Homo sapiens: one gene and its partners. The protein of the gene in region 4 interacts with the protein of the main gene of each other region in a pairwise test. Each region holds a gene or a part of one and is shown on either strand. Other genes may lie near its edges.

The links. Proteins that work in one complex are often made in the same cells at the same time.
Region 1: the proteins of RETREG3 (region 4) and MAL2 interact in binary tests that used the Homo sapiens proteins (3 or more experiments, as listed by UniProt).
Region 2: the proteins of RETREG3 (region 4) and TMEM11 interact in binary tests that used the Homo sapiens proteins (3 or more experiments, as listed by UniProt).
Region 3: the proteins of RETREG3 (region 4) and TMEM120B interact in binary tests that used the Homo sapiens proteins (3 or more experiments, as listed by UniProt).

What each region holds. Positions count from the first base shown.
Region 1 is NC_000008.11:119,218,363-119,221,862, forward strand, and holds part of MAL2 (protein MAL2), read left to right. Parts: intron 1-2,880; exon of another isoform or gene 2,881-3,045; intron 3,046-3,224; coding exon 3,225-3,395; intron 3,396-3,500. UniProt on the Homo sapiens protein: Member of the machinery of polarized transport. Required for the indirect transcytotic route at the step of the egress of the transcytosing cargo from perinuclear endosomes in order for it to travel to the apical surface via a raft-dependent pathway.
Region 2 is NC_000017.11:21,207,662-21,211,161, forward strand, and holds part of TMEM11 (transmembrane protein 11, mitochondrial), read right to left. Parts: exon of another isoform or gene 3,275-3,500; intron 1-3,274. UniProt on the Homo sapiens protein: Plays a role in mitochondrial morphogenesis.
Region 3 is NC_000012.12:121,719,252-121,722,751, forward strand, and holds part of TMEM120B (transmembrane protein 120B), read left to right. Parts: intron 1-3,500. UniProt on the Homo sapiens protein: Necessary for efficient adipogenesis. Does not show ion channel activity.
Region 4 is NC_000017.11:42,599,375-42,602,874, reverse strand, and holds part of RETREG3 (reticulophagy regulator 3), read left to right. Parts: intron 1-3,500. UniProt on the Homo sapiens protein: Endoplasmic reticulum (ER)-anchored autophagy regulator which exists in an inactive state under basal conditions but is activated following cellular stress.

The DNA of each region.
Region 1 (3,500 bases), on a different chromosome or scaffold from region 4:
ATAAGAACGGTTAGTCTATACTATTTTACAGTATAGCCTCTGCTGTCAAAGCCTTGGTCTGTCTTGAAAGCTTACTCTGAAGCCTGCCTCCCCTGCCTACCTTTCCAGATTCTTCCCATTATATTTCTTCTCTCCTCTCCCCTCCCAGCCTCTCAGAACACACTGTGTTGAGCTCTTTTTATAGCACCCACCGCAATCTGCTCCTGAATCAGTTTAATAGTGTCTATTTCTTCCTTATTTCAAGCTCCTGGAGATGGAACCTTGCCTTTTTTGTTTTTTCTTGAGTGTTCTTCTATAGTACCTAGCAGTAGGTTCGGGGCTGGCCTGTTTGAGGTCCAGTCTGGGTTTAGTAAATGCTGTGTTGAATTCCAAAGGATCATATAGCCTCCTCTTTAGAGGTGTGAATGTATCATCATCCCTAACTCATTATGTTTATCTATTTGGCTCTGCCTGTCCCTAACAAACAGTGGCCAATTGCTTTTTATTATCCTTTATATTTGCACATAGGTTCTCAGGAAATAACTCAGAAGAGATACTTAATGTATATTTCTTAAACTGTATTTAAAGTTATGTAGGTTATTCTTTGTGGGAGAGTAAGAAAAGACTACCAGAAAGAAGAAAGTGGAAAAAAAGGAAAGATTGATCCACTGAAGACATACTTATATCGCCTTCAGATATTTATTTAATAGTATGTAAAGGTAAATAATATTAGGAACAAGTTTTTTCTTTTATAGGCACTGATAAGGTGGTGGTTAAATGTTTAAGATGCACTGATATTCATTAGATTTATTTCATAACACTTTCTGGATCAATTGTTAATTTTTTATTTGACTTTAGGAGTTGAGGTATACACCACAACTATACATTTTTTTAGACTGGTGATTTGATTATCATTGATCAAGTGATCATTTATGCTTTCAAAAATGTTTCTTCAAAGTAGTAACAAATTATATGATTGGGCCTTTTCTTGAAGCTTGAATTAAAACTTGTGTTTTTAACTTTCAGTGACTTGTGGAGTAATTTGGATATCTAGATACTGAAATGCAATGTACAGATGAGTATTGATTTTTAATATTTGGAGCTCCAACTGTTCTCACATGAGCACTAGCTTGTTTACTAAGCAAATAATTTAAGAGCGTGCTCTATCACTCTCCCTGGGTGTGTGTGTGTGTGTGTGTGTGTGTGTGTGTGTGAGAGAGAGAGACAGAGAGAGAGAGAGAGAGATTGATTCTCACTTGCTTGAGGTGTCTTCAGGGCAGGTATGTAGCCTAAGGTTTTGTGCTGCCAAATCTAGCATAGTACCTGACTGATGGTTAGGAAAGGATTACTGTGTAGATTAATAAATGGCTTGGGATGCAGAGACATATAAAGCAGTATGCTGCCAAGAAGGCCTGGTAGTGCAGATGGAGAGCCAAAGGGATTTAATTACAGTGTATCTCACTGATGTAACAAAGCCCAGTAGGGAGGTTGCCCAGAGGAGGGAGGCATAACTGAGCAGGGGTGGATCTCAGGAAAAATGTTGTAAATGATGTGCTCAAGATTAGATGTGAGTGGGAGAATCTCAAGTACACATAGGGAGGGAATGACATTCACGGCATGCAAGTAACAGGCCACTCTGATGTGAAAGATCTTTGTCTTGGAACTGTGGATTTTTTTTCTCCCCCTAATACAAAATGTGAGGGGCATAGTGGCAAGAGACAAGGATGAAAAAGACATGTCAGATCACAAATGGCTTGGAATGCCAGGCATGGTAGTATGGAGGAGACCAATGGTGATAGATGCATAAAACTCATCTTCACACCATTTCTCCTGCGGTGTTCTCTCAAGCCTAGAGGCCCATTCCAGAAATCTGGGTATTTTCCTTATCTGTCCTTTTTCTGTTGTGTCCCACATCTGATCAGTTACCAACTATTATCATGTCTACTTCTAAATTTCACTCTAATCCATTCCTTTCTCTCTGTCCTCAGTGTTCTGATTCTTACACTCTGTTGGTCTAACAGTCTCCTGTGTTACCCAATGTTTGTGAAATCTCTGTGTTGATAGAGCTGAGAAACACAGAGATGTGCTGCCTCACCATCCACCCTTTCCTCCCCAGTCCATTCTCACATTCTAGCCAGAGAGAAATTTCTAAAGGCAAATCTTGACCATGCTAGTTTCTGCTCAAGATGATCTTGGCTTTGTCATCGCCCTTAGGTGAAGTTCAGTTCCTTGGCCCGAGCTTCAGCACCTCCTCGCTCAGTCTCCAGTACAGTTCTCTCCGTTCCCCACCAGCACATGCCCCTCCTGTCTTGCTGAGCTTTGTTCTTCACCTATGCGGGGCTACTCTCAGCTCCTGCCATGGAACCCCCCTTTCCTCCCTCTGCTTTACCCCATAGCCCTGTGCTTTGGATTGTTGCTTCTAGGAAGTATTTTCAAATCTGGATTTATAGCCCTTGCTGTGTGGACCTGCAGTGCCCAGTATTTGCCCAATTGTGACATTTATGAAGCAGCTTTTTAATCGCTTGCTTACTTGTCTCTTTCCTCTAATAGACTGTGAGTTCTGTGGTGACAGAAACCAAGTGTAACCTGTTTACCATTTGATTCCCAGCACCTGGCATAGTGCCTGAAATGTAGTAGGTATTTATTGATACTTAGATCCATAGATATGTGAAGTACTTATTCCTATGTCGAACACATAATACTCAATAAATGATGGTAGTTTTTATTGTTTACCGCCATATACAACAGCTGCAACTATTATTCTATCCATTTTTTTTACTAACTCTCTAAGAAGCAATGAGATCAAAAGCTGGTTTATAGTGATGTGAAGAGCAACTTCAAGGAGAGGAATTGGAGACCAAGCAAAGATGAATTTGTTAAAATGGTTGACTGAAAAAATACCTTCATTGAAAAGGTGGTAGTCAGAGAATCAGTAAAGTCAAAGGAAGGTATTTGTCAATGATGAAGGAATACTGGACATGTACATGGGTTGAAGAAGCGAGTCCAACCTGAAGATACAGGTGTGGAGTTGGATCAGTTCTCCAAGCAGGAGGATTGATCTTGCACCTGAGGAAAGAAGGCATCTTACATAATAAGGGGAAAATCGAAGGGATGGGGTTGCTGGAATATGTGCAGGGGTCTGGGAGGAAAATGAAGGCAATGCTGAGGGTAATACAAGCATGTTTAATTCTGTTGTGTGAAAGGTATCTTTTAAGCAAACCAATTACCCTCTTTTTCTCTTTCAGCTGTTCGGGGGTCTTGTCTGGATTTTGGTTGCCTCCTCCAATGTTCCTCTACCTCTACTACAAGGATGGGTCATGTTTGTGTCCGTGACAGCGTTTTTCTTTTCGCTCCTCTTTCTGGGCATGTTCCTCTCTGGCATGGTGGCTCAAATTGATGCTAACTGGAACTTCCTGGTAAGGACTTTTTATTTTAAGTCTATTGCAGGAAGATGGGAGAAACCTGTATCCTATTCTGTTCTGAAATGCCAGAGTCCCAGTTCTGTTGCCCCTAATGGGAGA
Region 2 (3,500 bases), about 21 Mb from region 4:
CGGATTACCTAAGGTCAGGAGTTTCAGACCAGCCTGGCCAACATGGTGAAACCCCGTCTCTACTAAAAATACAAAAATTAGCCAGGTGTGGTGACAGGCGCCTGTAATCCCAGCTACTCAGGAGGCTGAGGCAGGAGAATCGCTTGAACCTAGGAGGTAGAGGTTGCAGTGAGCCAAGATCACACCACTGCACTCCAGCCAGGGGGACAAGAGCGAGACATTGTCTCAAAAGAAACAAGAAAATAGATCAACAGTGGTTTTCTTTGGATGGTGGCCTAATAGGTGACTTGTCAATTTCTTCATGCTTTTCTATATTTTTTAAAAAAAAGTGTTTCTTTTTTTTTTTTTTGAGACGGAGTCTCGCTCTGTCGCCCAGGCTCAAGTGCAGTGGCGTGATCTTGGCTCACTGCAAGCTCCGCCTCCTGGGTTCACGCCATTCTCCTGCCTCAGCCTCCAGAGTAGCTGGGACTACAGGCAATCGCCACCACGCCCGGCTAATTTTTTGTATTTTTAGTAGAGACGGGGTTTCACTGTGTTAGCGAGGATGGTCTCAATCTCCTGACCTCGTGATCCGCCCACCTCGGCCTCCCAAAGTGTTGGGATTACAGGCATGAGCCACTGCGCCCGGCCAAAGTGTTTCTTTTATAACAGGAAAAATAATTATAAACTTATTCTTAAAAAGAAAAATTCTGTTCAACCCTATATCCCTTGAGGTAAAGGGACCAGATACCCGTGGGAGGGCCTCCTTCCACTGCCAAGAAGAGCGGGAGGTGGCTCACTTCCTGCTCCAGAACCTTCTCGGTGTCCATGAAAGGCAGAAGTCTGGACGCGGGCAGCTTCTCATGGCTGAGGTGTCATGCTGGTGTGTACCTGTAGTCCTGCCCAAAAAGAGGAGGGCAGTTCCAGCTCCGTTTCCCTTGAGCAAACACTGGCTAAGCTGCCAGGCCAGCCACCAATCACCTTCCCAGTTCTGAGAGACCCAGCAGAGGCAAATCTGAGTGGAAGCATCCACATTAGGCCCCTTCTTGGAGTGGGGCCCGGGCTCACAGGCAGGCCTGAAGCTCCATGAGGGCAGAGGCTGCATTTTCATCGTAGTTTCCCCAGCACTGGGCCTGAATGTAACAGGTTCCCAAAAGACACAGGTTGGAGGGACATTTGTAATGATTACAGACATGAGCCACAGGAGTCACAGGAGGAGAAAAACAATTATGGTTATTAAGAGAACTGGTACCAGAAAAGTCAACCCATCCGTCAGGCTGCTTTTCACTTAGTGAAAGGGTCACTTGATCACCTATGATACAGGAGGTGCTGGGCTGGACCTCCACCCGCTTCTGCCTAATTAAGCCCTGCTTCTTTGGGACCCACAGAAAGCAGAGGACTGAAGCAGTGAAAGCCCGTGCCCCAGACTCAAAGGCACGGGCATGCGGCCCCATGGCCTGAGGACGGCTCCCACAGGCCAAGGAACTTTCACAGGACACCCAGCCCTTTCGTCTGCTTCAGAGGACACTTTCCTATTCTGCGCACTGGTAACTCAGCAGCCCTTCTATCTGGGGAGCAGGAACACGGCGCACCAAGTGTGGGAGTCGAGAGGGTGGATTCAAGTTCCCTCTCGGCTGCCTACTGGCTTTGTGTCCTAGGGCAAAACACCCGGCCCCTCTGAGCCAGTTTCCCATGTTGTCAAACGGGGCCAGAGGCCCTGGCTCTCCCAGAGGACTGCAGTGAAGATGGGAACAGTCGCCAAGCACTGCCCCTCTGCCTAAGACACATGTGGCTGTTGAAATTTAAATTAATTAAAATTAGACATCTTAAAAAATTCAGTTCCTGGCCGGGCACAGTGGCTCACGCCTGTAATCCCAGCACTTTGGGAGGCCAGGGCGGGTGGATTCCTTGAGCCCACAAATTTTAAGACCAGCCTAGACAACATGGTGAAAACTCTGCCTCTACAAAAAATACAAAAATGAGCTGGGCGTGGTGGTACATGCCTGTGGTCCCAGCTACTCGGGAGGCTGGGGTGGGAGAATGGTTTGAGCCAGGGAGACGGAGGTTGCAGAGATCCGAGATCATACCACTGCACTCCAGCCTGGGTGACAGAGCCAGACCTGTCTCATAAAATAAATAAATAAATGAAACCTCAGTTCCTCAGAGCCACACGTGGCTAATGGCTGCCCTAATGGACTGCAGGGACACGCCAGGAGTCTGTCATGCCAGAAACTCCTACTGGACAGCCCTGCTCTGAAGAACTGTTATGACTACTACATGGCTGTCAGCTTTTCCTGAGAACTGTGCCCATAAAGTGGCTGCTGGCACCAGGGCGGAACACCGTGGCAGTCAGGAGGTTCCCGGGTGTGCTCGGTCATGGAGTGCTGCCCAACTCCACCCCCCGCACCTCGCTCATTGAAGAACAGGTGCACACCGACAAGCCGGGGCAGAGGAGCCACCTCCCCACCTCCGTGGACCCAGGCGCAGCCCTCCCCTCTTCAGAAAGGGGAGCCTTCCCTGGAACATGACCTAAAGGACTGAACCACTGAGACACAAATTAATGCACTTGGAATCCAGGCTGCTTGAGTGAACCAAGGAAAACAGAAATTCTTGAAAACTTGAAGGCACATCAATACTGAAGAGGATGAACCCCATCCTTACCTACGAATCCAACTTCTGCGGCCAGAACATGTGGCTTTGCCTTTGTTAAAGAGCTGAGCAGAATCCCACAACCAGTGGCTAAACCCCCACACACTTGGGTGCAGATCCCGTATCTGCTCATCTCATCCCAGCCAGAAGGAAACAAAAACTCCCGCCACACACAAAAGCAAGCATGGAGTCTTTCAAGAGAGATTAAATACTCCCAAAGCCTGAGAGTCTAAAAGGGAAGGATCAGATCAGAAAGGGAAGCTGTCACCCCGGGACCATGACCCAACCTGCCCCCGGGGCCTGTGCTCCATCTGCTCACTGGATGAACGTGTAAGGGCCACCTGGGACCAGGCACACCTGAGTTCACAAAGAAGAGGACAGGTCCTGGGGAATAAAGCATGGCAAGGAAAGCCATGAAAGTCAGCCCAGGGAACTGGCTGCCTATAAAACGCTGGAGCAGATGGCCGCGCAAGCCAGGGGAGGGGCAGGCCACAACAAATAACTTCGCGCTAAACCTGAACTTTTAGCCCCGTGCATCTGGCCCTCTGCACACCCCAGGTTGCCTCATATCATGCTCAGAAGCAGATCAAGTACATCTTCACGTGATTATAAAAACAGGAACTCAAGAGCACACAGCTATACTCACATTCCAACAATCACGGAGGGCTCTGGGAGGTTCAGGGGCCCTGAGACAGTGAAGCCGAGCAGCCCAAGTAAGACAGGCAGGGCTGTCTGTGAGCTGGTCCGGGCTGGCACACGGTGGCAGAACACAGATACCTGCACTGTGCTTTCCTAGATGGGCAAGTGTGTCTCAAAGACGCCGACAGGACAAGTGGCAATCTGTTTGATGTGCTCGTTGCCAGTGTGCTGAA
Region 3 (3,500 bases), on a different chromosome or scaffold from region 4:
AAAACAGAGAGAGGGATGCTGGACAGGCACCTTTTGGGGGGCTAATAGAAATTGTTGGCTGGGTGTAGTGGCCTATGCCTGTAATCCCAACAGGAGGCTGAGGCAGGTAGATCGCTTGAGCCCAGGAGTTTGAGACCAGCCTGGGCAATGTAGTAAGACCCTGACTCTACAAAAAACCACAAAAATTAGCTAGGCATGGTGGCGTGCACCCATGGTCCCACCTACTTGGGAGGCTGAAGTGGGAGGATTACCTAAGTTCAGGAAGTGGAGGTTGCAGTAAGCTGAGATCCTGCCACTGCACCCCAGCCTGGGTGACAGAGTGAGACCCTGTCTCAAAAAATGTTTTTTTCTTCAAGGGAAACAGTGGCATCGATTGGACACTGCTTAAATTGCTAACGGGGGTAGTTTAAGGGGGTGGTTCACAGTTGCATGTTAGGCCACACTGCATTCTTTTTTTTTTGAGACGGAGTTTTGCTCTTGTTGTCCAGGCTGGAGTACAATGGCTCTGTCTCGGCTCACTGCAACCTCTGCCTCTCGGGTTCAAGTGATTCTCCTGCCTCAGCCTCCTGAGTAGCTGTAGCTAGGACTACAGGCACATGCCACCACACCTGGCTAATTTTTGTATTTTTAGTAGAGACAGGGTTTCACCATGTTGGCCAGCTGGTCTCGAACTCCTGACCTCAGGTGATCTGCCCACCTCGGCCTCCCAGAGTGCTGGGATTATAGGCATGAGCCACCTTGCCCGGCCCACACTACATTCTTGATGATGTCACATCTTTGTGACAGTGCCTAGCCTGCTGCATGCACCTCATCTCCTAGCTCTTTCACAGCTGATGACACCGAGGCACAGAGGGATTACATAACTCAGCTAATAAGTGGCAGGCTCTGGATCTGAACTCGGGCAACTTGATGGCAGCATCAAATCACTTAACCATTGTGTTTTCATGCCACCCAAATGCGTGCCTCCCACGCACAGACCCCCACTTACCGCTCCCGTAACATACCGTTCATGGATTCTGACACATGACTCAGAATCTGTCCCGCACAGGACGCATACACGTTAGGCGAAGTCATCCTTGGTGGTGTTTCTATGGTGATGAGTCCTGGTTAAGTATAGTCAGCGTCTGAAAGTCTATTTGAAGTTGATTTCTTAGAGCTATATAAAAGTAATCTCTTGTCCAGGCACAGTGGCTCATGCCTGTAATCCCAGCACCTTGGGAGGCCAAGATAGGCAGGTCATTTGAGCTCAGGAGTTTGAGACCAGCCTAGGCAACATGGCAAAACCCCTGTCTCTACAAAAAATACAAAAATTAGCCAGGCATGGTGGCACAGGCCTGTAGTTTCAGCTACTCGGGTGGTTGAGAGAGGAGGATCGCCTGAGCCCAGGGAGGTGAAGGCTGTGGTGAGCAGCCATGATTGTGTCACTGCACTCCAGACTGGGCGACAGAGTAAGACTGTGTCTCAAAAGAAAAAAAAAAGGAATCTCTTGAAAGTTTACCACCAGCAAGAGGCACAGCTCTAAGGCACCACACTTAAGTGGCGGTATGGCCCTATTGCAGTCTACTGGACTGCCCAGCGACTTCTGATGCTCCTGGGCCAGAACCATGTCTGTAAATGCCGTGAGATTCCTCTAGCAATTCCTGCAACACATGTTGACTCCCCAGTCCTGGATCTTCCGACAGCCAAGATGTGTTAAGGAGGTGTCTTCAGATGTTTCACATCTGTACTGGGAACAGGAGTCATTAACCTCATCTTCCCACTGGGGCAGAGCTTGGGTCTCAGAGGACAGCAGAGGTGGCAGAGATCCCTGAATCTTCCAAAGGAAACTTGCTTGTTTGTGTCTTCTACATGCGGAGGATGGTAATTAGACAAGTAGGGAAGATGCTCTGGGCATGACAGCTCACAGAGCTCATGTGAGCAGTTCTCCTTTTTGTTGTTGTTTTGTAAGAGAGGGTCTCACTTTGTCGCCCAGGCTGGAATGCAGTGGTCCCATCATGGATCACTGCAGCTTCAACTTCCTGGGTTCAAGTGATTCTCCCTCTTCAGCCTCCTGAGTATCTGGGACTACAGGCACACACCACCACACTTGGCTAAGTTTTGTAATTTTTGTAGAGATGGGGTTTTGTCATGTTGCCCAGGCTGGTCTTGAACTTCTGGCCTCAAGCATTCCTCCCATCTCAGCCTCCCAAAGTGCTGAGACTATAGGTATGAGTGCCTGGTCCTCCTTTTTTTTTTTCAACCAAGAGTTTCACTCTTGTTGCCCAGGCTGGAGTGCAGTGGTGCCATCTTGGCTCACTGCAACCTCCGCCTTCTGGTTTCAAGCAATTCTTCTGCCTCAGTCTCCCGAGTAGCTGGGATTGCAGGCAGGCACCACCACGCCCAGCTAATTTTTGTATTTTTAGTAGATGGGGTTTCACCATGTTGGCCAAGCTGGTCTTGAACTCCTAACCTCGTGATCCGCCCACTCCAGCCTCCCAAAGTGCTGGGATTACAGGCATAAGCCACTGCATTCAGCCCTGGCCCTCCTTTTTTTTTGAATGGAATCAGTTCTACTTTTTTTTTTTTTTTTTTTTTTGAGACAGCGTCTTGCTCTGTCGCCCAGGCTGGAGTGCAGTGGCTCAATCTTAGCTCATTGCAACCTCTGCCTCCCGGGTTCAAGCGATTTTCCTGCCTCAGCCTCCTGAGTAGCTGGGACTACAGGCATGTGCCACCATGCCCAGCTAATTTTTGTATTTTTAGTAGAGTTTCACCATGTTGGCCAGGATGGTCTCGATCTCTTGACCTTGTGATCCGCCCGCTTTGGCCTCTCAAAGTGCTGGGATTATAGGCGTGAGCCACCACACCTGGCCTTTTTTTTTTTTTTTTGAGATAGAGTCTCGCTCTGTTGCCCAGGCTGGAATACAGTGGCACGATCTCGGCTCACTGCAACCTCTGCCTCCCGGGTTCAAGCGATTCTTCTGCCTCAGCCCCCTGAGTAGTTGGTATTACAGGCGTGTGCTACCACAGCAGGCTAATTTTTTTATTTGTAGTAGATACGGGGTTTTACCATGTTGATCAGGCTAGTGTCGAACTCCTGACCTTGTGATCTGCTCACCTCAGCCTCCCACAGTGCTGGGATTAGAGGCGTAAGCCACTGTGCCCGGCCTCCATTCTACATTTTTATAAGTAATACATATTCACACAGTTAAAAATTCATGTAGCAGCCATGCATAGTAGTTTTTATAACACAACTAAAAACTGGCAACCTGAACGTCCGTGGGAATGGATCATTACACTGAGCACCCAGAGAGAGGTGAAGCAGGAGAGTGAATAAACTGAGCTACCTGTGTTAACATCCTGCAGAAAGTTGCAGAGGGGTATGTACAATGTGGCACTTGCAATAAAGGCAAAAACATTGAAAACAACACAGTATATTGCTTAATGATACATTGTATGTAGTCCAAGTATAAAGACTTGCAAAGGAGTGATAAAGACCACAGTTGGTGCTATCATGGAAATTC
Region 4 (3,500 bases):
ACCTCTGGGCTCAAGCCATCCTCCCACCTCAGCCTCTCAGGTAGTGGGGACTACAGGTGTGTGTCACCACACCTGGTTAATTGTTTTGTATTTTTCGTAGAAACAAGGTTTCACCATGTTGCCCAGGCTGGTCTTGAACTCCTGGGCTCCAGCAGTCCACCCACCTTGGCCTCCCAAAGTGCTGGGATTACAGGTGTGAGCCTCCACACCTGGCCTTAAGTATTTTTAATGATCATAATTAATTCTGGGGAAAATATGGAAAAATGGGCATATGGCTGATAGGAACATAAATTGGACAGCCTTTCTAGCAAGTAGTTTGGTAACATATTTTAAGCCACTTAAGAAGCTTTTCCAGGGCTGGGGGAAATGGAGAAAGAATACTAATGGGTATGGGTTTCTTTTGGAGTGATGAAAATGTTCTGAAATTACATAAGGCTATTAGTCGTACAGCATTGTGATTTTTTTTTCATCTCTGCTGCTGGCAGATGAATTGAAAGAGAATTTTATCGTATACAAACCATTATCTCAATAAAGCTATTTTCTTACTTTTTTTTTTTTGAAACGGAGTCTTACTCTGTGGCCCAGACTGGAGTGCAGTGGCATGATCTCAGCTCACTGCAACCTCTGCCTCCCAGATTCAAGCAGTTCTCCTGCCTCAGCCTCCCAAGTAGCTGGGACTACCGGCGTGCACCACCATGTCTTGGCTGATTTTTGTATTTTTAGTAGAGATGGAGTTTCACCATGTTGGCCAAAGTGGTCTTGAACTCTTGACCTCAAGTGACCCACCTGCCTCGGCCTCCCAAAGGCTGGGATTACAGGTGTGAGCTACGGTGCCCGACCAATAAAGCTATTTGTTTAAAATAGTTAATGCCTTTGACCCAGTAACATGCTCAGTGATGTATAGTTCAGCTTTTATTACATCAAAAAATTGGAAACTTTTGGCTGGGCGCAGTGGCTCATGCCTATAATTCTCAGCACTTTGGGAGGCCGAGGCAGGCAGGTCACCTAAGGTCGGGAATTCAAGACCAGCCTGACCAACAATGGAGAAACCCCATCTCTACTAAAAATGCCAAATCAGCCGGGCATGGTGGCGCATGCCTGTAATCCCAGCTACCTTGGGAGGCTGAGGCAGGAGAATCCGTTGAACCTGGGAGGCAGAGGTTGTGGTGACCCGAGATCGCGCCACTGCACTCCAGCCTGGGCAACAAGAGCAAGACTCCGTCTCAAAAAAAAAAAAAAAAAAAAAGTTGGAACCTTCTTAGTTTATTTTTCGTTTATTTTTCTTTTCTTTTTTTTTTTTGAGAGAGTCTCGCTCTGTCTGTTGCCCAGGCTGGAGTGCAGTGGCGCGATCTCGGCTCACTGCAAGCTCCGCCTCTCAGGTTCACGCCATTCTCCTGCCTCAGCCTCCCGAGTAGCTGGGACTCCAGGCGCCCACCACCACTCCCGGCTAATTTTTTGTATTTTTTAGTAGAGCCAGGGTTTCACCGTGTTAGCCAGGATGGTCTCGATCTCCTGATCTCGTGATCTGCCTGCCTCAGCCTCCCAAAGTGTTGGGATTACAGGCTTGAGCCACCGTCTTAGTTTATTTTATTTTATTTGAGATGGAGTCTTCCTGTGTTGCCCAGGCTGGAGTGCAGTGGCACAATCTCAGCTCACTGCAACCTCCGCCTCCCGGATTCAAGCAGTTCTCCTGCCTCAGCCTCCTGAGTAGCTGGGATTACGGGCACCCGCCACCATGCCTAGCTAATTTTTGTATTTTTAGGTAGAGATGGGGTTTCACCATGTTGGCCAGGCTGGTCTTGAACTCCTGATGTCAAGTGATCTACCTGCTTCAGCCTCCCAAAGTGCTGGAATTACAGGTTTGAGCCACTGCGCCTGGCCCATTCATTGTTTTTTTTGAGAGAAGGTTTCACTCTGTCACCCAGGCTAGATTGCAGTGGTGTGATCATGGCTCACTGTACCCTGGAACTCCTGAGCTCAAGTGATCATTCCACCTCATGGCTGATGAGACCACAGGAGTTCATCACCACATCAGGCTAATTGTCTATGTATTATGTGAAAAAGTTTTAAAACCATAGTGTTTTTATATGTGAATTTTTTAATGAAGAGAATAGCCTGTCTTCACACTTTTTAGAGTACATATGTGGATAATGGATCATTTTAAAAATATTTTATTATGGAAAGCTTAAAACATGTGTAAGTAGGCAGAATAATATTGTGTGCCACCATGTACATAATATTATTTTTTTCAATTCCTGGCCAATTTTGTGTCTTCCATACCCCAGTTCTTTTCTACGTCTTCCTTATTGTTTGACACAAATTATTGATGTGTCATATCATTTAATCTAGGTATTTCAGTATATTTTTCTGAAAAAGAGACTTTAAGAAACATCTGCCATCATTATCACATGCAAAAAATTAATGATTCTAGTCAGTGTTCACATTTCCAATTTTCTTATAAATGTCATAAATGATACTTTTTTTTTTCTTTTCGAGACAGGGTCTTGCTCTGTCTCCCAAGCTGGAGTGCAGTGGCACAATCAGAGCTCACTGCAACCTCAACCTTCTGGCTCTAGCAATCCTCCCACCTCAGCTTCCCAAGTAAATGGGAGTACAAGCGTGCACCACCACACCTAGCTAATGTTTTTCTTTTCAGTAGAGATGAGGTCTTGCTGTGTTGCCTAAGCTGGTCTCAAACTCTTTGACTCAAGTGATCCTCCTGCCTCGGCCTCCCAAAGTATTGGGATTACAGGCTTTAGGTACCACATGTGGCCTGTTGTGTGTGGTTTTATTTGTTGTTTTTTTTTTAAACTCTTTTTTTCCCCACAAACCAATTTGTTAGTGTTTAGGTGGTTTTTTCTGTTTTGCTTTTTTGTTTTTTGAGATAGGGTCTCGCTCTGTCACCCAGGCTGGGGTACAGTGGCACGATAACGGCTCGCTGCAACCTCAGTTTCCCGGACTCAAGCTGTCATCCCACCTCAGCCTGTTGAGTAGCTGGGATTACAGGTGCCCGCCACTATGCCCAGCTAATTTTTTGTATTTTTAGTAGAGACGGGGTTTCGCCATGTTGGCCAGGCTTGTCTCGAACTCCTGACCTCAGGTGATCCACCTGCCTTGGCTTCCCAAAGTGCTGGGATTACAGACGTGAGCCACCATGCCTGTACTTTTTTTTCGATAAACATGAATTCATGTTAGTTGTATAATTTTTTTTTTTTTTTTTTGAGACGGAGCCTTACTCTGTCACCCAGGCTGGAATGCAATGGCACAATCTCAGCTCACTGCAACCTCTGCCTCCTGGGTTCAAGCGATTGTCCTGCCTCAGCCTCCTGAGTAGCTGAGATTACAGGCATACACCACCACGCCCGGCTAATTTTGTATTTTTAATAGACATGGAGTTTCTCCATGTTAGCTAGGCTGGTCTCAAACTCCCGATCTCAGGTTATCCACCCACCTAAGGCTCCCAAAGTGCTGGGATTATAGGCATGAGCCACTGTGCCCAG